7 linked regions of the Homo sapiens genome follow. The protein of the gene in region 1 purifies or fractionates together with the protein of each later gene. This does not show direct contact. Each region holds a gene or a part of one and is shown in the gene's direction. Other genes may lie near its edges.

Region 1 (3,500 bases):
CCCACCAGACAGGGGACTTATCTTATACAGCGTCTCTGTTACCCACCTCAGACTGAAGGTTGCCCTGGGGCAGAGCCTGTGCTTCCTCTCTCTCAATGCCCCGGCACAGGACTCTGACACGGTGGATTCTTAGTAGAGTTGGGTCAGAACATCACTGGGTTTTGTCAAAGAGCAAAGGTTGTCATAAGCTTCCTGGGATGTGAGGTGCCAACCAAGTTTCTTCTAGTCTCTGTCTCTCGTAACCTGTGTTGTGGTTCCATCTGTCCCCTTCTGTGTACAGAGTTGAGGTGACCTGGCTTCTTTTTTTTTTTTTTTTTTTAATGAGTGATCCAAGGGAGGCAGGCTGGTGCCTAGGGGTGCCTCAGGAGCTGCTCACAGTGGGCAGGAAAGGGCCTGGGTGAGGAGGGATGGGAGGGGAGAGGGCAAAACAGGAAGAACAGCGGTCAGCTGCTCAGTGAGGAGAGGAGGCCGAGAAACTGGGCTGAGCAGGACAAAACCTCCCCTGTGAACCCTGCCAAGGGGAGGGGCCCCTTATTAAAACTTACTGGGGCATAGCCAGGCCCCCCTGGAGGGAGGGGGTCTGAGGGGCAGGGAAGGGGGCTGGGTGGAGGCAACTAGGACTCTGGCCTCCAGCCAGTCCTCCCCTGGGTGGCTGTTTCTGTGGCTGGGCTGTGGTTCACACCATCTGTAGCCCTTCAGTTGTCCCCTTCTCCATACCAAAGTGCTGTTTCGCCTAGTCCTGCCCTGGTCCCATTCATTCTTCAAGGACCTGGACTTGTTTCTGTAGGTAATCCAGTCACAGTATTCTCTAGGCTACATCAGCCCAGAAGTGACAGTGATCTAGGCACAAGTTCCAGCTGTGGCCCTAGGGAGCTTCCAGAGGGTAGAAAGTTTTCAGGAGAGGTCATGAGTGGAGAGAGTTTAGAAAGGGGTGTGAGATCCCTTGGGGTGGTGGGTGGGTCCCCTGAAAGCAAGAGGCGAGCTTGGAGCTCAGAGGTGGGTGGCTGGGCAACAGCTTCACACTCCACAGACCTCACTGCCTTGTTTAAGAGAAACCAAGAGTCTGCCCATCAGGTGGAAGGCCTGGCAGGGGCTGGTGGTGCTGTCCTTGCTGTTGCCGTTGCAGTAGGAGGGTTGTCAGTGTGAAATGTGGGGGTGGGGTTTCCCATTTCCCTGTTCTTCCCTTCTAGCCCTGGGCCTATGACAGCCTGCAGGGCTCGCTGAAGTAGTGTTAGGGCCCTGGGGGTGTCAGTGGTGATGTGGGGAATGGGAGTTGAGTGCATGATGGAATGGGAGAGCCTTTCCCTTCTTGTCAAAGGGTGCTGAAATCCCTCTTCTCCTGGACAGGGTGGCTCATAATCGGCCAGCCTTCTACTTCCTTGTTCCTATATCTGGGAAGACCTTTTTTTTTTTTCGGAGACAGGGCCTCATCCTGTTAACCATACAAGAGTCCAGTGGTGCAATCTCGGCTCACCACAACCTCCGCCTTCCTGGCTCAAGGGATTCTCCTGCCTCAGCCTCCTGAGTAGCTGGGATTACAGGCGTGCGCCACCACCGCCCGGCTATTTTTTGTATTTTTAGTAGAGTTGGGGTTTCCCCATGTTGGCCAGGCCGATCTCAAACTCCTGACCTCAAATGATCTGCCCATCTCGGCCCAAAGTGCTGGGATTACAGGCATGACCCACCATGCCTGTAGAAGAAGACCCTGGGAAGATCATTTGGACCACCCCACTTCCCCATTTCTCTTGCCATCTACAAGTTAGGGAGAGACCCCAAGGTGGGACCCCACATTCCTGGAGCTCCTGGAGATCTGAGGCCAGCAGCTATAGACCAGAAAGGGCTTGTCCTGACTTGGGAACTGGGCCCAGGGAGAGGGTCCCTGAGAGCCAGAGAGGATGGCAGTGACAATAGTAACAATAATGACAGCTGCCGTTTACTAGGTTTAGGGCATCCTGGGAACTGCTCTATATGCTTTGTCTTTACTCAGCAACAAATGTTTATTGAACACTTACTATGTGCCAGTCACTGTCTAGGAACTGAGGGTACAGGAGTGAACAAAACAAAAATCCTGCCCTCGTGGAGTTGGATTCCTTACAACTTCTGCTGTTAGTAGCTGCATTTCACAGATGAAGAAACTGAGGCTCAGAGAGGTTAAGTGGTTTGCTTCAGTCTGCATGACTGCAGCTTCTAAGCCCAGATTCCCCACCACTAGAATGCGCAGTTCAAAAGGGGGTGGGGGCCCACAGTGAGAACCAGGCTGGGGTTCCCCTGCCATGACAGAGACCAGGGAAGCCAGGTCTTCCCAGCTCCTGACAGTGCACCACGCTTACATCTGTCTGGGCTTGTTCTTCCAAAGGCAGCTGTGGCCACAGGATATCCCTGGGGAGAGGCACACCTCTTTTAACTGGGGCCCCTTTTTTGAATTTTATGTAAATTATAACGTAGTCAAAATTAGTCCATGCTAATTTCCTTCTAGCAGCCTCTAGATTCTGACACATTCTTGATCCCCTCTCCTTCACCCCCCACTTCACACTCACGACTCTGGGTACCTATCAGTGAAGCAAAGTGGTTAGCAAAGGGTGTGTATTTTTATTTTCATTTCACGCGTACCTCTTGAGCACCCATTATGTGTAAAAGAACAGGGCTGGGTGCTGGGGACCCAGAAGTGGATCTGACCCCAACCTTATTTGGTAGGCATGTATCTGGCACCCAGCCACCCAAGCAGGCAATCAATGAGGCACAAGATGTCAGTAGCTGGCCCCAAGGCTCCAGGGTGTCTACCCAAGTCCAAGAGAAGGGCTTGAATTTAACTCCTGTGCCAGCCTGTGGTCAAAGACAGAGTCCTTGGAACCCTCACCAGATGTGGTGGCCACCCTAAGGTCCTTGCCTGGAGTGGGGAGGAGGGGAGAGGAGCCTCCTGCTTTGGGTGGGAAGCGGAAGGGGCTGCAGAGTGGGTTCTCTAGAAGCATAGCGGTAGAGAGGCAGATTGCCACTCAGCCTGCCTGTCCTTCCAGTCTTTGTTCTGGGTGGCCTTCCTGGGCCACCCCAACCTGAACTGGGTCCCCCACTGTCCTCTCGCTGCCCTTTGTGTGTTTCCTGTATAGCATTTCACACAGGTTGATGGGTATGCCTGGGTATTTATTTGTTCAGCTCCTATTTTCCCGCACTGTGAGCTCTGAGGACAGAGACTGCCTTACTTTTATTCTCCTGTGATGTTGTAAGCACTCAGTACATTTGTTGACTGATTGAATGAACACATGGAAGCAGAATGGTGGAGTGGGAAAAACGTGGGGTCAGAGAGACCTGCTTTGAATTCTGGCTCTGTCCTCTAGCAGTGGTTTGCCACTCTGTCGAGTCATCCTCCATTCTGAGCTTTAGTTTGCTATGACATGTGGATAATGAGGCTACCATCTTGGAGGGGAGTTGTAAGAGTGAAATGACACTATGTGTATCAAATGTTATACAGTGGCTCAGAGTAAAGTGGCTGCTGCTATTATTGT
Region 2 (3,500 bases), on another chromosome or scaffold:
AGGCGGGCGGATCACGAGGTCAGGAGATCGAGACCATCCTGGCTAACAGGGTGAAACCCCGTCTCTACTAAAAAAAATACAAAAAATCAGCTGGGTGTGGTCGCGGGCACCTGTAGTCCCAGCTACTGGGGAGGCTGAGGCAGGAGAATGGCATGAACCCAGGAGGCGGAGCTTGCAGTGAGCGGAGATCACGCCACTGCACCTCCAGCCTGGGCAGCAGAGCGAGACTCCATATCAAAAAAAAAAAAAAAAGATTCACAGACTCATCATGCTTAGTACAGCCACATCTTAACGCTCAGGAGGCTGGCCTGGTCATCGTTACATCGTGAAGTTAAGTTTACAAGATATGTGGTGGTATTGAATCATACCTGGTGATTTTCCACGTTCCCTGATTTTAAGCAGTCTGCTGTTCTGATGGGAAGTTCCAGGTTGGGTTTGTGTCTGCTGTTTTCAACTCTGAGGGCCCCTTTCTGAGCTTCAGCTCGCTTATCTAGAAGTTAAATCAGAAGCTTTTTGTTAAGATCAAACAATGTGCAGTGCTGTTGCAACTTGAAAAGTGCTTTTCAAGTATTAGATACAACTGTTAATTCTCTTGTATTTTAAAGTATTGGGGCTTGGTTTTAGCTATATTTAAACACAAAAATAGCAGTTTCTTGTTTTTCCTTACCTGCTTCATGTCCATCTACCCAGATCCCTTCCACTGGGCCTGGCCTCTTAATGTTTACGTTATTATTCAGTGATTATTCCCATCCCTTGATCTTTGCTCCTGTTTCTTTCTTTGCCTAGAGTATTTATTTTGCTTCCTGTCCATTCCCTAAGCCCTGCTGATCCTTCTAAATCCACCTCCAATCCCACTTGGCGAGTCCCTGCTCCAGCTCCCCTCAGCGTTCAGTGTCGTCTTAGACTCCAGATTTCCCTTTCACACTGTGTTCCATGTTGTTTAGCAATTGGCTGTGTCCTGCTTGTGGTTCCCTTATTTTATCACATGTATTATTAGGCTCGTCTCTCCCACTGGATGTCAGTCAGCATATGGAATGTCATGATATTACCAGGTGATGGAGAGGAATTGTGCACGTGGAATTTGGTACACATCCCTTTTTCACCCTCTTCAGGCTTTGTGTTAACTTGGGAAGTTACTTACTCTTTTCTCATCTGTTAAACGGGTACTATTACTTGTGACCATTACAGGGTTGCTGTGAAGATTCCAGAAAATGTATGGAAAGCTCTGACAAACAAACACGTTAACTGGTAACTGTTCAGAGGCTGTTGTCTTAAGAGACCCTCTTGCATAGGAAAATAGCTGACTCTGTCACTTCAGGGAGCCAGTTTAAGAAAAATGAAGGGTAATGCAGGGGCCAGCTTTCAGCTTGGCACATCTGAAAAGTTCACGACAGCATACCAAAGGGCTGCTAGTGCTGGCTGTTGGAAATAGAAATGCAGTTCTTGCCTTCAGGAAACGCTGTTTGGACACAGACAAGCAGGTGGGTCCTTGCACCATGGCTGGACCAGAGCACACTGAGGCAATGTGAAGAAGTACCCAGTACACAGACTTGGGTAGGGAGTGGAGGGGAGGACATCAGGGTATAAGAAGAGGGAGGAAGGGAAGGGGAGGAGAATGTTCCAGGTGGAGAGTGCTTGGTGTGGAGGTTGGACAGAGCATGGTATGTTCTGAGAGGTCAGTGCTTGGCATGGTCCTCTGGCAGAAAAGGGAGTGGCTGTGATGAGCAGGAGGCTGGCTGGGGCCACAGGATGATGAATAAAGGACTTGAATCGTGTGCTCAGGACTCTGAGTGATTGTGAGCTTTTCAGATCCTAAGCGGAGGAGCGACATCAGCTTTGTTTTTAACAAGGTCACTCTGCCCTTTGGAGAGTGGATGGTGGTGGGTAAGAATGGAGATAGGAAGTTACTGCAATAATAAAGATTGGGAAAATGGGCTTACTCTAGTTTCGGGGTGGCCAAGCTTTTTTGTAAAGGGCCAAATGGTAAGTATCTTAGACTTTCAGGCCATCCTGTCCCTGTTGCAACGACTGAATTCAACTCTGCCTTTAGCAGGAAGACAGCCATAGACCCTGCAGAGATGGATGGGCGTGGCTCTGTGCCCTGCTTCCACAGGAGCATGCCTACAGAAAACAGGCAGCTGGCCAGATGTCGCCCAGGTTGTGGTTTGCTAAACCCTGACCTAGAGTTGGTTTGCAAAGTCTTTTGGTGCTGGAATAATTTTATACTCTTAATAGTTATATTGAGGATCCAGAGAGCCTTTGTTTGTGCTGGTTATCGCTGTTGATGTTTTCTATATTTGAAATTAAAACAGAACAACTTACAATATTTATTTTACTTTAAAAGAATCTACTACATGTTAACATAACCTTTTTAATGAGAAACAACTTTTCAAAAACAAAAAGATTAAGCAAGAAGAACAGTGTTGTTTTACACTTTTGCACATCCTTTTAAAATATGAGGTTTAAGAGGTGACGGCTGGATTCTCAGACCTGCTTCTGCATTCCGTGTGTTCCAGTTGCTTTATTGAAATGTGTAAGGAAAATGTGGCGTCACACTTCCATGTGGGCAGAAGAGGGGTCATCCTGGAGGCTCTTAGCGATGCACCATAACTCGCCAGGTGGCAGCGTGTTTGAGTGTGCCGGCCTTTCGGAGTCAGTGACGTTTCTGTACTCTCTTCCGTCAGAACCCTGAGGTCTGTCTTGTGCTCAGAGTGGGTCTTTTGCTCATGGACATGATTTGGTAACATCACACGGGGGTTGTTTGGAAATATTGTTACATGGAGTTGTTTTTTTTTCTAAATGTTAACACATTCCATTATGTAAACTTGAAGAAAATCCTATTTTTTAATGTCATCACTGATCTCATCAGAAGAAAAAGTGAGAAACTGTCAAATTAGCAGTAGTAGAGAAAAGTTTTCCAAAATTCTAATTTTCTCTTGAAAGCTTGGATTTTATCATTGGTAACAAATACTGTCAGTTACTTTCTGTGAAGTGAGGGACGCAGTGTGTTCATTTTCAAGTCAATTTCTGCCAGATACCAAATTCTTAATAACCAAAGTTGGTCAGTTGTTCTTTCAAATAAAAATGGCATTCCATGAAAAAAAGGGCTAGTTCAGCTTGTGTGATACTGTGGAATATGTATTTGGTCTTCCCTAGTACACAACTCCTAAAATCCTCGGGCTCGTCAGTGATGTCTTCGTAATGCGTTGGCTAAGGGCCGGCAACCCCTGGGTAGCTTCAGAACAGGGGCTGGTCACCAGAAAGACCTAGGCAGGATTAGAAGGTTGGGACTTTCAGCCCCGATCCCCAACCTCGGGGAGTGGTGAGGGGTGGGGGAGCTGAAGGTTAAGCTGATCACCAGTGGCCAAACAGTCTTGCCTATGTATGGACTGGGTTTGAAGATAGCTTCCAGATGTTTCTGGAGGGGGGCCCACCCAGAGAGGACACGGGAGCTCTGTGTCTCAGCCCCCGTCCCTCGCCCTGTGCATCACCTCAGTGTC
Region 3 (3,500 bases), on another chromosome or scaffold:
TTTCTTTCTCTAATCTGATGCATATCATTTTCTTCCTTTCTTGTTCCCAGGGATCTCTCAATGCTATTTGCCTTCATTAGCTTGCTCGTTATGCTTCCCACTTGGTGGATTGTGTCTTCCTGGCTGGTATGGGGAGTGATTCTATTTGTGTATCTGGTCATAAGAGCTTTGAGATTATGGAGGACAGCCAAACTACAAGTGACCCTAAAAAAATACAGCGTTCATTTGGAAGATATGGCCACAAACAGCCGAGCTTTTACTAACCTCGTGAGAAAAGCTTTACGTCTCATTCAAGAAACCGAAGTGATTTCCAGAGGATTTACACTGTGAGTTCATTTTTTATTTTATTTCTTAAATGATTATTTTCTATTCCATAAAGGAGAATATTTATTACCTATTTTCATTTCTATGTTGCATTTATAGGAAAAAAAAGTGCTTTTCTCTTTAGTACTTACTAAAGTCAATTAACTGCTAAGTGAAGGAATAAATACATTATGTGCTAGATTTAATATGTAGTATGATTCTGCCTATCTGCTTTGAGGAACTAAAGTACTTTGGAGATCATGATTATTTCTGTATGTTACCATGTGATTATATGAGATAATATATAGAGAGTGTCTGATACTGAACCTAACGTGCAGTAGTTACCCAGTAAATGCTTGCTCCCATTACTCCCTTTCAAATGCCTTCTTTATGATAGACGTATCTGCTATAAATGCATTTTGAAAACTCTTGACATGTACTAATAACTGTTCAGGTAAATATTAGCAGATATTATAGCACTGATACTCTCAGAATATCATGCAAATAGTGATGTTTTCCATTCTTACAGGAAATTAAATATTCACCAGTCTAGCTGTAAGTATATTAAGCTGTAGGATATATTGACTACTTAATCTATTATTAAAGGGAAAGTTACATTTATTGAGCACCAACTATATTCCATATACTATGCTAGTCACTTTTGCATACAACTAAAGGCATAGAATTATAAATGGTAAATATTCATATCCATTCCATCTGATTCTAAACCCGGCTTGCAGTACACTGGACACCTGCCAAACACTAACAGATGACAGTTGTGTGCTAGTATATTTAATAATTTATATAACCTATATAACTTTTGCAATCTATAGGTGGGGGAAAGTAAGCATATGGTGAAGAACATTCATAGCTCTTAATTAGTCGTATCTAGAAAATCATGAAAAGAGGGAGTGAAGAACCTCTGGTAGCCATCGCATCCTTCACTCTGTTCTGCTCTAGAACATTACACAATCTTGAGATAAACACTGTTTCTAAAAAATCATGGAATAGAGAAATGGAAGAATCCCAGTAGTTATCTTGTTCTTTACTCTCTTGTGTTCTACACACAATCCCAAGACATAAGATGGATTTTATAATTTCTCTTTCTTCTCAATCAAAGTATAAAAGTCAGCCAGGCACAATGGCTCACACCCGTAATCCCAGCACTTTGGGAGGTCGAGGCATGAGGATCACTTGAGCCCAGGAGTTCAAGACTAGCCTAGGCAATCTAGCAAAACCCCATCTCTACAAATAATAAAAAATTAGCCAGACGTGGTGGCACACACCTGTAGTCCCAGCTACTCGGGAGGCTGAGGTGTGAGGATTGCTTAAACCCCAGGAGGTTGAGGCTGTAGTGAGCCAAGATTGTGCCACTGCACTCCAGTTTGGGCAACAGAACTGGAGACAACAGATTCTGTCTAGGTTGGGCAACAGACTTGGTCTCAAAAAAAAAAGTATAAAAGTTCTTAGCATCTGTTGATTTTTGTCGTTGCATTAGTTGAAGTCTACTTCTTATTGACTTAAAGGATAGCACGTTTTTAAGTTGTTTAAGTGTCAAATTTTAAAAGTTTAAAAAAATCATGCTTAAAATAAGTAATATTTCCGGCCGGGCACGGTGGCCCACACCTGTAATCCCAGCACTTTGGGAGGCCGAGGCGGGCGGATCACGAGGTCAGGAGATCGTAGCTATCCTGGCTAACACGGTGAAACCCCGTCTCTACTAAAAATACAAAAAGAAATTAGCCGGGCGTGGTGGCGGGTGCCTGTAGACCCAGCTACCCGGGAGGCTGAGGCAGGAGAATGGCATGAACCCGGGAGGCAGAGCTTGCAGTGAGCCGAGATCGCGCTACTGCACTCCAGCCTGGACGACAGAGCGAGACTCCGTTTCAAAAACAAAAAAAAAGTAATAGTTCCTTTTTATTTTATTGAGAGGACTTACTGGTTGAACAAAGTGGCTTTGTTCAACTAATGGTTAGGCGTGTATAGAGGATTCTGTGCCTTGTGTCATTTTCCAACTTTATCTGTCCCCATGGAATTTGCACGAAGAGGTAAAGTGGGCCAGTTAGACATGATTTACCTTCCAGATTATGACTTCTACCCATTCAGATGACAGACGAAGAGAAGTATTGGAAGAAATTGTGCTTCCTTTGTCTCTATCTAACTGGATAATGGGTTGAAAAATGAATAATAAGTCTTGAATCATAATTTTTTAGACATTTTCAAAATTAGACAGTTTTTAAAACTGATTTAGTAAAATGGAGCACAAGCAGTAGTGCCATATATTGAAATCATGAATGCTGTTTTGTTTCTGACTCAAATTGTCCTCTCTCACAAATAATTGAAACCTTTTTTGCCTTCATTCCCTTGTCTTAACATAAGCCTGTCAGTCATCATCCTCTGCTTTTTATAGATTTTTTAAAATTTGGTTTTTATAGATTTTTAATACCTGAATACATTTTAGTATGGTTTAACATTTTTAAAGTTTTGAGTTAGGTGTGTTGTTTTATAGCTTTGTGTTATAGTATAAGCAATTTACAAATGCCAATATTTTGTTTTACTGTTGGGAAAGATTACTGGTTAGGTGAAAAAATTTATCTGATAACCAGGTATTTACTCATATATACTGTAAGTTATGAAATGTAATACATTGTATGTCATTGTTACAAATTAGGTACTCCCCATTAATCTTATGGGAAGTGCCATGAAATGTGCTTCCTCTTGAACAGCTTTGAGAGTAGCTATGCTACTATGCAGTAACCCTTACTTTGCCTTTCTACTTGTATTCCCCTGTTGGCCACTGGTCCTGTTATCTTTCCACGTCCCCTACTTCATTTTGAGTAGGTAAGTGCCAGTGGCAGCAGGTGGGTAAGTAATTTTACCCTACTTTTATGAATGTACAGAATGTATTTCTATACAGTATTTTTTCTGTACAAGTGACCAAAATATGATCAGTGAACATATGTGATGAACGTATGTAAATGTATATTAAGAATTTAAAAGTGTTTATAATTAAGGTCTTCATACTTCCTATGGATATAGGTTTTGAAAACTGAATATAAAGTAGCTCTTCTCTAATATATGTTAGCAAGCATAGTGTCTATGTAAAAAAGATGTGGATTCTTAATAAATATTTCTACATTTCTGTTATATCTCAGCCAGAATCCATTGTTTCCCCACATCAGAGGAAGCCTTTGCTC
Region 4 (4,006 bases), on another chromosome or scaffold:
TTTTTTTTGTATTTTTAGTAGAGACGGGGTTTCACCATGTTGGCCAGGCTGGTCTCGAACTCCTGACCTCGTGATCCACTCATCTTGGCCTCCCAAAGTGGGATTACAGGCATGAGCCACCGCCCTGGCTGGGAATTGCACAGCTTTCTCAGCCTGTCGGTTGCCCATGCCTGTCCTTTGTAAGTTGTCTGTTTTCCACTCCAGCCTCTGTTGCAGGCCAAGTTCTCAAACTCTACCACTTCCTGCCTATCTCATTGGGTGTCAGTTCGAATCCAAGGTCAAACCAAGGAAGGTACCTTTTTCTTCCACAAGGCAACAGGGCAATGAAACAGCCATTGAGTAGCATTTAAGCAGTTTATTTGCCCAAAGCCACATTCTAGTAAGTGGCAGAATTAAATAGTTAAGAGTCTGACAGGCGGTCCTGGGTTTGCACCCTGCTGTCATGTGCTGAGTGATCCTGGACAAGTTATTCAACTTAAGTCCCCAGTTCTTGGTTTCAGGGTCCACTGAGGCTTCTACCAGGTTGCTGCCTCACTCATTAATTCACACAAGAAAGTTGGGGACTCTTGGGGATTTGAAGCTGAGAAGCTGCTGTAGTGCAAAGGGCTGGGGTTGACTCCTTCAAGGGGTGGCTAAAGAAATGTTTAGAGTTGTTTAGAGTAGGAAGTGCTTCTCAGGTCCCATGGCCACGTTCTGCCTAGAAGTCAAAGGTCAGCGGGGGTCCACAGCAGGTTGGGTCCTGGGGAAAGCAGCCCCCTAGTGACAGTTAAGGCTCAGATGCCAAGTCCCACTCCAGGACTGAAGGCTTTCGGGCAAGCGGCCTAGGGTGTAGGTTTCCCCCATCCCAGTCCCTCCCTGCCTGCGCTCACTGGGCCCGGGAGGACACCCATTGTTCATCATGCTCTGCGCACCCTGATGTCTCTAGAGAGCCATTCATTCAACAGATACCTGCAGAGCAGGGCCTGCATATCGAACCTTTTCCCTAGCCCTGGCCTCCTCACACATTTTATGTGCACTTGCTGTGAGCAGTCCACAGTCTTTGGCGTGCACAGGGGCACAGGCTGTTCCGGAAGCCGCCAGTCTCCAAAGTTCTGGCGGGAGAGAAGGGAGGGGAGAGGCTGAGTCTCAAGCCGCTAGGGAGCGGCTCTGCCCCAGGGCCGAGGGTGGAGCTTTCTGGGTCGGCCGGGAAAGGGCTGGGCTTAGCCTACAAGTGAAGGCAGGGCAGCGTTGGCGGGCGCTCCCTTGAGAAGTCCAGGTGGCGGGCACCTCCGAGCCGATTCCCAGGATCCCCCAAGTGGCTCTGAGCTGCCGATCACCGGATGCCCCAGATTCCTGGGACCCAATCCCGGATTTCAGAACCTCAGGACCTTGCAAGTCCGAGCTAGGATTTCTCCCTGGACTTTAGATTCCTGGAACGGGACGTCAGGCCGTATTCCGGATCCCTAGATCCCGTGGGAGATTCTCCGATTCCGAACGGATTCCAGATCCCAAGATTCCTGATCTGCCGGCCCAGGCTCCTGCCCCGCCCCCGGTTCCCAGTGCGCGGCGCCCCGCGCCTGAGCGCCCCCGCATGGCGGGGCCGTGTCCCCGGTCCGGGGCGGAGCGCGCCGGCAGCTGCTGGCAGGACCCGCTGGCCGTGGCGCTGAGCCGGGGCCGGCAGCTCGCGGCGCCCCCGGGCCGGGGCTGCGCGCGGAGCCGGCCGCTCAGCGTGGTCTACGTGCTGACCCGGGAGCCGCAGCCCGGGCTCGAGCCTCGGGAGGGAACCGAGGCGGAGCCGCTGCCCCTGCGCTGCCTGCGCGAGGCTTGCGCGCAGGTCCCCCGGCCGCGGCCGCCCCCGCAGCTGCGCAGCCTGCCCTTCGGGACGCTGGAGCTAGGCGACACCGCGGCTCTGGATGCCTTCTACAACGCGGGTGAGAGCGCTGGGGGCGGGGCCGGATCCGGGCGGGACTCAGGGTCCTGGGAGGGGACCAAGCCGGGCTCGAAGGCTCAAGGGAGGGGCCGAGAGGGGTACCGGGTCTAGGGGACTTAAAGTGAGCTAAAGCTGAAGGGCTTGGGACAGGGCCGTGAAAAAAGTGGGATTTAGGGGATCTGGGGCGCGGCCGGGCTCGGGACGAGACAGGGATCCGGGCGCGGCTCTAGGGCTCGAGGTTGGGGCTTAGGCACCCTTCAGTCGGAGCGGTGCCCAGCCAGCGGGGCAAGGATGGGGAGGGGCTTTGGAACTCTGGGGCGGGGCGGGGAGCGGCGCGGGGCTGTGGTGTCTCAGGGGTGGGGTTGGAGAACTCAGCCTCACCCTCAGGAGAATGTCACGCGGATCTCTTGAGGACAATTACTGGGAGAGGAGCTTGGACTTAGGGAAAGGGGCCGGGAGGCTGGAGTTCAGGAGTCCTAGCATACTATTTCCAAGGATCGGGCTAGGAGAGGCAAAAAGAGAAGCGAAGGGGCCCGACGGGACTGGATACTGGGTGAGGGAGCTTAGGTTAAGTGGCCTCAGCGGCCCAGAAAGAATGGGCGGGGAAGGGGCGGGGAAGTGGGCGGGAAAGGATGGCTCAGGGGCGGGGCCAGAAGGAGGCTATTCCCCCGCGAGTCACTCCTCCCTCCAGCCAGCCCGGATGCTCGGCCCCCATACTTACTTGCTTATGCTAGAGTCCAGTAGCTGTGCTTCCTGGATGTCCATGAAATCGTAGCCTAAAATGAAGGCTGACCCGACCACTCGGACACAAAGATACAATTATCGACAGACACAAATCGCATACATGTTGACTCATGCAGGCCCTAGCAGACGCTGTCACACACACAGATACAGTCAGACATAGTAAGCTATACATGTCACAGATATACACATACATACATTTAGGCACAGCGTTGTCTATGCACACTGATGGTAGCCCCTTTCAAGAGCCTGTGCTGAAGACCAAAGGGAGGGGACTTCTATGTTTGCGCAACTCCCACCTCCTAAATGGCCCGTAACAGACTCAACTGGTCCACAGCCTCCCTTCCCCCATGCCAGGTGCTCACAGGCTCTGAACCGTGGCCTGAGGGTCCCAACCCAGTGAGCCCAACTCCTCTCCTGCAACACTACAGAGATCAGTTCTGTGAAAGTGCCAGGGGAACCCTAAAAAGGGCCGACTGAAGCCCAAAGCAGAACCAGACCCTACTGGAGTCCCACAGCAAGGCAGGTCAAGCCAGGATGGACCCCGGCTCCTTCCCCATCAAGCTGGGCTTCAGGGATCAGCGCCACCCCCTCTGTGCCTGCAGATGTGGTGGTGCTGGAGGTGAGCAGCTCGCTGGTACAGCCCTCCCTGTTCTACCACCTTGGTGTGCGTGAGAGCTTCAGCATGACCAACAATGTGCTCCTCTGCTCCCAGGCCGACCTCCCTGACCTGCAGGCCCTGCGGGTAGGTGGCCTGGGGCTGGTGGAGGCAGGCACAGGGCTGGGGTAAGGCCTACACAGAACACCAGTATCTGACTGTCTGCCTCCTGCAGGAGGATGTTTTCCAGAAGAACTCGGTGAGCAGAATCCACCTCTCACTCAAAAGTGCCCTTTGACTTCCGCTATGACCTCTGACCTCCACTAATCCCCCTGGCCTCCTCAGTCACCTAACCCCCCACTGACATCCCAAGTATTCCTCTGTTTCCTGTTGCCTCCTCTCATGACGGGTGCCCCTTTCCTGCGATTCCAATTCCCACTGATGCTGACCTTTGATGCTCTCACTCCCCTTGTCTAGCCCTGTGCTGACCTCTGACCTCACTGATTCCTGCCTCCCTCCCACCAGGATTGCGTTGGCAGCTACACACTGATCCCCTATGTGGTGACGGCCACTGGTCGGGTGCTGTGTGGTGATGCAGGCCTTCTGCGGGGCCTGGCTGATGGGCTGGTACAGGCTGGAGTGGGGACCGAGGCCCTGCTCACTCCCCTGGTGGGCCGGCTTGCCCGCCTGCTGGAGGCCACACCCACAGACTCTTGGTAATGAAGGCCCCCAGGGAGGGTGCTCCAGGAGGGGGCTGG
Region 5 (2,201 bases), on another chromosome or scaffold:
TTTTTAAATTAACAATCCATCCTTATTGTAGAACTTTAAAATAATTTTTTGTTTACTAAGTGGTTTTTGTTTTTTATATATGTTTATTTTTTTCCCTTTCTTGTTTACCAAGATTATTTATAAATATATATATATATATGCTTATTGTCAAAATAGAAACATACGTAAACTCTGGGAACTTAAATATACTTATGCAAAAACTAAATTTAGAAAAAATAAATAATTTTAAAAATTTCCATTCCAATTTTTTACCTTGCAGTTGTTGATTAAATGTATTAGCAAATTTTGAATGAAATGCAAATTTCATTAGAAATTTAGCCATTAGATAAAGTCAGAAAGTACTGTTGTTTTATGCTCATCTTACTATTACTGATTTTTTGCTGCTTTATGTTTTTTTTCTTATTCTTACTAAATCTTAGCAGTGTCACTAGTAATAGTCTTACAAAGTAGGCAGGTTTTTTTAGGCTAAGTGATTAGTGACATAGTTAATGATTAACAAAAAAAATAGCAAGAATGAAAATTAGTCAGATACACCTCTGAATTTGTCTCCTGCTAAATATTTTGTGTTGCTTATTTTCCCTTGTGCATGGGTATGTTCAGGTATCAGTAAGATGCATGTGCATGAGCTCAAGGAACATGACTACTGGAGTTTCCATTACACATTGTTGCGTGCCTTGTAATTTTCCCCAAAGACGGTAGGGATTCTTTTGTTTTCTTAAGTAGCCCAAAGAATCTTTAGTTAGAATTAAGAAAAGTATAAACTATATAACATCAATAACGGGGGAAATTATATTTTTAGTGTTCTCCCTTTCCTGGAGTATTTGCATAGGGAATTATGAAATGAAAATTTAATGTAAAATGCATATAGTAAAAAATACTAGTAGTTACTTTAGTTATATTTAAGGACACATCTGTACGATCAGCTAAAAGAGAAAAGGTGCTGAAAGAGAGGACCATTATTTTATTCTCTCGTTTCCCACAATTCTTACTGAATTTTTTATTCAAAGAAGGTGACATTTTTGCAGTTGTTTTTTGTTCTTTGTGATTGTTGTGATGTGGCTCCTCCTTAACTGACTTCATTTGAGCTGCTGATGCACTCTTATGCTCTCATGGAGTGGAGAACCGATTCTAGTATAGAGGGGGTAGCAAATCTTTAAAACACGACTTACAACATGGGGAACCCGTTGTGGTAATCTATGCTGATGTTTTATGTGCTTTTGCCTTCATTTTGCAAAATGACTTAATGCTGGGTTACATGTCTCTCTTTTTATGAATTCAGTCCTGCTCAGAGTGAAGCTTCTCCAGTGGCTTCTCCAGATCCCCAGCGCCAGGAGTGGTTTGCCCGGTACTTCACATTCTGAAAGAATTGTGTTGGCACAGCTCTGTATAGACTGTTACTAAGAGCATGACTTTATACAGATTGTTATGTAAATAGGCTTTCCTATGTCAAACACTGTGAATGAGAAAGTATTTGTCTCTCCAACTTGAAAATGCACTGTATTTCCTGTGATATTTATTGGAATCATTCTATAAGGTACTATATTATGTGTGTAATTATAACTGTTATTTTTATTTGAGATGGAAGAGTCTTTAACCTTTGTAATTACTGCATAATAAATTTTGTTAGAATCAAACAATGCTTTTTATTTTTTTCTACGTTTGCTTTAATTTTTAAATATTTTTTAATTCCAGGTAAGACTTGTCAACAAGTTTTACTGCATTATAATCATGTCATATCAAATTATTTGACTTCAGTAATCATAATAGAATCAGGATAGGGAAATAGAAACTCTTGTTCCAGTACAATGTGTAATTTTAACTAAATTGTTCTCTAAATTTACAAAGCTAGAATGAAAGTGCTTGTGTAAATTGTGGACTTTCAAGTGTATAAAATACTGTTGACTTTTAGGTGGTTTTTTTTTTTTCAGTTTTGATAGTTGAGATCTAGAACTTTAGTACAGTTAGTATCTATAATTAATACTATGTTTTATGGCCAAAAGTCACTGGGTAAAGAATAAATAGTCAATTTGATTTTAATTTGTCTTAAAGGCCAGTTTGATAGTTTTCTAAATTGGTGTAATTAATAGGGAGTGAGACATAGGGGTTTGGAGCTCAGGAAAAGAAAGACTGGGCTACAGATGTTTTGGAACATGGCATGTATGAGATAGAGAAATCCACAAGTGTGGATGAGAACAACAAGG
Region 6 (3,500 bases), on another chromosome or scaffold:
GATCACTTTTAAAACGTCTCTGCTTCATTATTTCAAAACGGACATCTTTTTCTTTTAAAGAACATTTAAGTCATAAGATAATGGCTGGGTTTTTGTTTTTTTGTTGTTGTTTTTTGTTTTTTTTTAGCATTTTCCCTATTTCGGTTTTGCTTTGTTCTAAGCAAAATTCAGTCCTCGAATTTAGACATTGTGTTATCCTTCCCAATTGACAGATGAGGAAACTGATGCACTGAGAAGCAAGTTTTTTAAGTTTACCTCCTTAGTCAGTGACAGAGAGCCTCAGTGCCAGCCTAGGCAGTGTGGTTCAGTAGAGCCCTGGGCTCTACTGTATGGGCTCTTTAATCTGCTTTTTATTTTATTTTTATTTTTTTGAGACAGGGTCTGGCTTTATCACCCAGACTGGAGTACAATGGTACAATCTTGGCTCACTGCAACCTCTGCCTCCTGGGCTCAAACCATCCTCCACCTCAGCCTCCTGCGTAGCGGGGACTACAGGCACGCACCACCACGCCCAGCTAATTTTTGTATTTTTGGTAGATACGGGGTTTTGCCATGTTCCCCAGGCTGGTCTTGAACTCCTGGGCTCAAGTGATCCCCCTGCCTTGGCCTCCCAAAGTTCTGGGCTTACAGGCATGAGCTACGATGTCCAGCCTTGCTTTTCATTTCAACAACATAATAGACATCTTACCTATTAGCACGCCCTAGTCTTCTGTATCCTTGAAATGACTGTATTATATGAATGCCACTGTGACTAATCAGTTAATGGAAATTTAGCTTGTTTAGAATTTTCCACATTAGAAATTATTCTGCAGGGAATATCGTCATATGTATAAGACACTTTTTATTTAAAAATCTACTTCCTTGTGATAAATTTTAAGAATGTCCATTGCCCCAGTCAGCATCTGAGGCTTCTTCTCACCCCTTTCCCCATCACTGGAGTTGAGCGTTAGCAGTCTTTCAAATCTTGCCAACCTGATAATTATGCCATCTTTCACCTGCTAAAGTTTGTATTTATTTAATTATTGATAAAGTTGAGCATGCTTTTATATTTAGTGGTCATTTGTGTTTATTTTGTAACTTTCTTTGTGATCTTTGCTCATTTATCAGGATATTTAACTTTCTCAAATGTGCCACAAGTATTCCTCCCCCAGTGTTTGCTTTGACTATATGATTGTGTGCACACGGTCGACATTTTGAATAGTCAGTAAGAATGTCTTTTACCTTTTCTGTCTGCTCTCCCTCCAGTGAGGCAGGGAGAGACTTGTCCGGTCTCAAGGCTTTAAATGCTGTTACGCCCCAGATCCAGTTCTCTCGCCCACATCTCCTATCCCACTGCCTCGTTGTTCTCTCTACCTGGAGAGCTGATGAGTGTTTAAATTGATCATTTAGAAAAAGTGAGCTCCTGACGTTCCCTCCTGAACTTACTCTTCTCTTCTTCTTCCCTGTCTCAGCACATGAGTCTGCTCTTCCATTTGCCCAGTGGAAAATCTTGGAGTCATGCTTGAGTCTTCTCTTGCTCTCTCAGTCCATTTCTAACCCGACTGCTTCACTGCCTCAGAGCTGCCACTCTCCACCAGGACCCCATTGGCTTTCTCTGGTTATTAAATTCACTTCCTAGCAGGTCTCTCTGCTGCCCGCGTCTGTGCTCTTCACACACATCCAGAGCCAGCCTGCGTTTGGACGGTTCATCTGATCAAGGCCTCCTTCCTCTTTTTTTTTGAGATGGAGTTTCACTCTTGTTGCCCAGGCTGGTGTGCAATGGTGCGATCTCGGCTCACTGCAACCTCTACCTCCCAGGTGATTCTCTTGCCTCAGCCTCCCGAGTAGCTGGGATTACAGGCATTCGCCACCATGCCTGGCTAATTTTGTATTTTCAGTAAAGACGGGATTTCTCCATGTTGGTCAGGCTGGTCTCAAACTCCTGACCTCAGGTCCAGCTCCTGGCCTGATCTGCCCGCCTCGGCCTCCCAAAGTGCTGGAATTACAGGAGTGAGCCACCGTGCCTGGCCTGTCTCCTCCTTTTTTGACACCTTCTCCTGCTACCCATCCTTTGCTCACTGTGTTTTAGTCACACTGGCCTCCTGGCTGTTCTTTGAACACCTCAGGCACATTCTTGCCTCAGGGCCTTGGCACTTGCTGCTCCTTCTGCCTGTACTGCTGTGTGTGGACACCCTTGTGACTGGCTCTCTCATTTTCTTCAGGTTTCCTTCATGTTATCTCAGCAAGATAAGCCCTCACATACAACACAGTTTCACCCTCCCACTCTGATATTTTCTAAACTTCTTCCTTGCTTTATTTCTCTTTAATGCTTCTAATATTCCATGTACTTATTTATCTTTATTATCGTCTGTCTTCCAATAGAATGTAAGAAGCTGCATGGGAATACATTTTTTTTTTTTTGAGACAGAGTCTGTCTGTGTCGCCCAGGCTGAAATACAGTGGTGCGATCACAGCTCATTATAACCTTGAATTCCTGGGCTCAAGCCTGCCTCAGCCTCCCAGTGTTGGGATTATAGACTTGAGCCACTGTGCCCAGCTAGAATGTTTGTTTTTTTCACTGTGGTTTCCCCACTACTTCGTCGAATGCCTGATTCATCGTAGGCACCCAATGAATGCTTATTGGATGAATGCTTTAGTGAGTGGATTGGCTGTTATTTCAGGCCTATGGATTGAAGATGAATTCACTAGGACTAGCAGTTACTAGCCTGTCAGCAGGTTCTGCACATCACTGCACTGAGATGGTCTCCTTAGGTGATAACATAGTTTGGTCATTTTAGGAAAGAAATTGCAGACTTCGAACAACAGAAAGCAAAAGAATTAGCTCGAATAGAAGAGTTTAAAAAGGAGGAGATGAGGAAGCTACAAAAGGAACGTAAAGTTTTTGAAAAGTATACTACAGCTGCAAGAACTTTTCCAGATAAAAAGGAACGTGAAGAAATACAGGTATGCTAGTTCTTTATGTTATATTCATGTAAGTTAGTAAAGGTGACAATCTTGTAAGCATCTCAGAGTTATTTCTTATGTCAAAGCAAAACTGTGTATCAATCCATTATTCATTCATTCAGCAAATAATCTGTCTGAGACAGTGTATCAGGAATATCTTTGGTAGTCTGACTTTTAAAGAGTAGAAGATTTCAGTTCTTTTCTTACTAGTAAAGTCTTCCTAGAAAAGACCACGATAATGTCATGGATGAATTAACAAGCCTGGAGTTGGAAATTCACCAGCATTATGTTGTGTTAATCTTTTTGACCTACCACCCACCAAATATTGTTAGTTCTGTTCATTTATCATAATTTATGGCTGTAAATAACCAGGTGTTTAATTCTAAAACTTATAAACTGATAGGCCAGATTATCAGTCTTGTTCATTTCATAGTTAGAAGTGGACATGCTAAAACTATAAACCTTCTAGAAAAAAATAGGTGAATTTATTTACGACATTGGCATATACGAAGATTACTAAGAGAAGACACAACTAACTATAAAAGAAAAAATGGATA
Region 7 (3,500 bases), on another chromosome or scaffold:
ACGTGTAATCCCAATACTTTGGGAGGCTAAGCCGGGACGATCACTTGAGCTCAGAAGTTTGAGACTAGCCTGGGCAACATAGTGAGATCCCGGTCTCTACCAAAAAAAAAAAAAAAATTAAAATGGTGGGACAGGGCACAAGTAAAAAGTCGCCTCCTGCCCCTGTCTTCCACCCACCCAGTTTCCCTGACAAGTAGCCAATATTACCAATTCCTCTTGTATCTTTTCTAATTCTATGCATATACAGACACACTTTTCACTTAATAATATCTCTAACCTGTCCACATTCCATCTACCATTATTTTCACTCAGGACCTTTTTTTATGCTTGAATTATTTTTAACAACATTTTTAATTATCTCTCTGCCTCAGGCCTCTCCTTTCTTTATACATCCTTCCTGGTTTATCATAAATTCTTCACAGCTATAACGTATTACAAAATTTTGAGCAGTGTGTAAAATTTATCTTTGGTACAACTGCACATACAGATTGTTAAGGCAGTGTCAGTGAAATGGAACATTGATCGAATTCTGTTGAGTGTAGTCATGGTATAACATACTGTTTAAACAAGAAAACAGCATAATGGCAGACTGTAGCAAAGGAAGGTGGTAAGAGAACTTTGCTTTGTGGATTCTTTGTTTTACATCTGGGTAACATTTAAGTGCTTCTTTTGTGCTAACTATGTATTAACCATGTATTTATCTCACAACATCCTTATAGGACAGATACTTATGCCCATTTTACAGTAGAGTAAACTGAGGCACAGGCACATTTGAGGTTAAAATATATGACCCAAGTGTCCAGAACTAATAAATGGCAGAGTGGATACAATGCTGTTGTCTGCTGTCAGAGCCTATGCTCTTACCCATTTTGATTCCTTTAAGTAGATAGTAAGATAGTAAGCAGTTTTGATGAAATAATGACATAGTCCTAAACAGCAACCAAGTTAATCATGTAGTAACCTGGATGCCTTTATAGACACTGAAACATTGGTGTTCTGTGGTCCTGATTGCATTATAATTGTTGCTGAATGGCCAGGTGCGGTGGTTCACACTTGTAATCCCAGCACTTTGGGAGGCTGAGGCAGGCGGATTACTTGAACCCAGGAGTTCAAGACCAGCCTGAGCAACATAGTGAAACCCCATCTCTAGAGAAAATACAAAAATTAGCCCAGCATAGTGGCACACGCCTGTAGTCCCAGCTACTTGGGAGAATCACTTGAACCTGAGAGTAGGAGGTTGCAGTGAGCCGAGATCATGCCATTGCACTCCAGCCTGGCCTGGCCGACAGTGCGAGACTCTGTCTCAAAAAAAAAAAAAAAAAAAAAAAAAAAAAAGAAGGGCCAGGCGTAGTGGTTCACGCCTGTAATCCCAGCACTTTGGGACTTTGGGAGGCTGAGGCAGGCGGATCACCTGAGGCTAGGAGTTTGAGACCAGCCTGACCAACATGGAGAAACCCCGTCTCTACTAAAAATACAAAATTAGCTGGGCGTGATGGCGCATGCCTGTAATCCCAGCTACTCAGCAGGCTGAGGCAGGAGAATAGCTTAAACCCAGGAGACGGAGGTTGCAGTGAGCCAAGATTGCGCCATTGCACTCCAGCCTGGGCAACAAGAGTGAAACTCTGTCTCAAAAAAAAAAAAGTTGCTTAGTGCTCTTTGAGCTTAAGTATGCCGTGAAGAGTTCTAGTATTTATGCTGTGTTATTAAACAGGTGTTGAAAAACATGGCTCTAGAAATTTAAAGATCACTAAAGTCCCCGTAACAAGGCCAAGGAGAAACTTTACAGTATGACAGTATCTTAGAACATCCTTGCCTATGGCAGAATCTGTGTTTCCTTCAAAAACAGATTTCTGAGTTCCATCCTAGGTATATTGAATCAGAATTTTTTGGAACCAGTTGTCAGGAATTATTTGTAATAAGCCTCCCAATAATTATTGGAATACTTGAGAACCATTATCTTAGTGAACTTGCTGTGGTTCAAATCTTAGTCCTCTGCTTATTTAGCTCAGAAGCTTGATTGATCAGGATACTAAACCAGGTCTCTCTCGGGGATAAACTCATTTTAGCTAGGCTTATGAAACTAATGTATAAAACTGGAATAACAATTTAATACATATAGAAGGAACTAAGTTCTTTTTTTCAGATAGGTCAGGAACATGGGAAATCAAGTTAGAATGTTTTAATGGAGCATAGAATTAGAACAAAGGAAGTTAACTAGATAGTCCAAAGTATTGATGGCATTTTGTTTCATAATAGGCATATGTACCCAACACCAAAACCAAGTCACGTCTTTGTATAACAGCATTGGACATTTTTCCTCTAGATAGGTTCATTTGTTATCACATTACTAGCAGGGGAGTTTTGCAGGACTGGTTATGTGTCAAAATTTTGCATACTGCAGCTTCTCCTACAGTCTGCCCGCCCTTGGTTAATGACACTTCCATTCTTTAGTTGCTCAGGTCAAAAACATTAGTGTTATCTTTGACTACTATTTCTTTCACAATCCACTTGTTGTCCACTGGTAAATCCTGTAGGCTCTGTCTTTAAAATAAACCCAGAATTTGACTATTTCTTACCACACCCTTATTCTAACCACTCTGGAAGAAGCCATTGTGACCTCTAGATTATTAAAATACTATTTTTTATGGTTTCCCTGCTTCTGCTGTTGCTCCTGCCCAGCAGTCTGTCCTCGATGAAGCATCCAGAGTGATCTGGTTAAAATGTAGGTCAGTACATGTCACTTTTCTGCTCAAAGCCCTCCGGTGGCTTCCCATCTTTTTCTAAGTCCCTATGTTCTGGGATGTTACCTCTTTGCCATTTATCTCTGACTTTATCTCCTACATGTTCTTCTTCTGGTCTTTGTTCCAATCACGTATTCTCGCTGAATAATCTTTGCATTTGTTCTTTTCTCTGGAGTTCTTTTCCTTCTGTATCCCTCATTTCAGATACTTAACCAGAAGTCATCTCCTTAGTGAAGCTTTCTCTGGTTATTCTGTCCAGTTGCAAATCCTAACATTTCTTGTCCCTTTTCTTTGCCTTGTTTTTTCTCCTTAGCATTTATCACTTGCCAGGTAGTATTTTACTTAATCTTCTCTGTTGTCTTTACCCACTAGAATGTAAACTCCATGAGGACAGTATGCTAGTGAGTCACCATTGCCTAAAACATAGTGGGTCTTCTGATATTTGTTGAATGCATGAATCTTGCTTGGATAGCATCTGTCTTGATTTCATTGTTAACTCTCATAGGGCAGTCTGATTTCCAAGTTTTGTGAGGCCATATTGAGGACTCCAGTACTTCTGTATTACTGATAGATTTTTATTAATGGAGCTTTGTCCTCAGAAAGCTTTAGCAAGTGGCCATTGCCAATGACATACGGAATGAAACCAGATTTGGTATTACCATCATTACTGCTATCTGACTTACCTTAGTTCATCCTTCTCTTTTATTCTCTCCAAATCCTCTGTTCTACCAAACAAGAGAGTGTTTTCCCACTACCTTT

Evidence for each region.
Region 2: the proteins of PLEKHO2 (region 1) and PPP2R2D purify together in Homo sapiens (affinity purification with mass spectrometry; 3 studies listed by BioGRID and IntAct, with this or other methods). This does not show direct contact.
Region 3: the proteins of PLEKHO2 (region 1) and VEZT purify together in Homo sapiens (affinity purification with mass spectrometry; 3 studies listed by BioGRID and IntAct, with this or other methods). This does not show direct contact.
Region 4: the proteins of PLEKHO2 (region 1) and MAP3K6 purify together in Homo sapiens (affinity purification with mass spectrometry; 3 studies listed by BioGRID and IntAct, with this or other methods). This does not show direct contact.
Region 5: the proteins of PLEKHO2 (region 1) and FAM184A purify together in Homo sapiens (affinity purification with mass spectrometry; 3 studies listed by BioGRID and IntAct, with this or other methods). This does not show direct contact.
Region 6: the proteins of PLEKHO2 (region 1) and CPAP purify together in Homo sapiens (affinity purification with mass spectrometry; 3 studies listed by BioGRID and IntAct, with this or other methods). This does not show direct contact.
Region 7: the proteins of PLEKHO2 (region 1) and CAPZA1 purify together in Homo sapiens (affinity purification with mass spectrometry; 3 studies listed by BioGRID and IntAct, with this or other methods). This does not show direct contact.

The regions. Positions count from the first base shown.
Region 1 is NC_000015.10:64,844,915-64,848,414, forward strand, and holds part of PLEKHO2 (pleckstrin homology domain-containing family O member 2), read left to right. Parts: intron 1-3,500.
Region 2 is NC_000010.11:131,907,508-131,911,007, forward strand, and holds part of PPP2R2D (serine/threonine-protein phosphatase 2A 55 kDa regulatory subunit B delta isoform), read left to right. Parts: intron 1-3,500. UniProt on the Homo sapiens protein: Substrate-recognition subunit of protein phosphatase 2A (PP2A) that plays a key role in cell cycle by controlling mitosis entry and exit. Involved in chromosome clustering during late mitosis by mediating dephosphorylation of MKI67.
Region 3 is NC_000012.12:95,266,307-95,269,806, forward strand, and holds part of VEZT (vezatin), read left to right. Parts: intron 1-50; coding exon 51-326; intron 327-3,500. UniProt on the Homo sapiens protein: Plays a pivotal role in the establishment of adherens junctions and their maintenance in adult life.
Region 4 is NC_000001.11:27,364,162-27,368,167, reverse strand, and holds the start of MAP3K6 (mitogen-activated protein kinase kinase kinase 6), read left to right. Parts: upstream 1-1,206; 5' UTR 1,207-1,570; coding exon 1,571-1,910; intron 1,911-3,255; coding exon 3,256-3,395; intron 3,396-3,483; coding exon 3,484-3,507; intron 3,508-3,773; coding exon 3,774-3,964; intron 3,965-4,006. UniProt on the Homo sapiens protein: Component of a protein kinase signal transduction cascade. Activates the JNK, but not ERK or p38 kinase pathways.
Region 5 is NC_000006.12:118,959,263-118,961,463, reverse strand, and holds the end of FAM184A (protein FAM184A), read left to right. Parts: intron 1-1,279; coding exon 1,280-1,361; 3' UTR 1,362-1,701; downstream 1,702-2,201.
Region 6 is NC_000013.11:24,898,862-24,902,361, reverse strand, and holds part of CPAP (centrosomal P4.1-associated protein), read left to right. Parts: intron 1-2,777; coding exon 2,778-2,943; intron 2,944-3,500. UniProt on the Homo sapiens protein: Plays an important role in cell division and centrosome function by participating in centriole duplication. Inhibits microtubule nucleation from the centrosome. Involved in the regulation of slow processive growth of centriolar microtubules.
Region 7 is NC_000001.11:112,626,332-112,629,831, forward strand, and holds part of CAPZA1 (F-actin-capping protein subunit alpha-1), read left to right. Parts: intron 1-3,500. UniProt on the Homo sapiens protein: F-actin-capping proteins bind in a Ca(2+)-independent manner to the fast growing ends of actin filaments (barbed end) thereby blocking the exchange of subunits at these ends.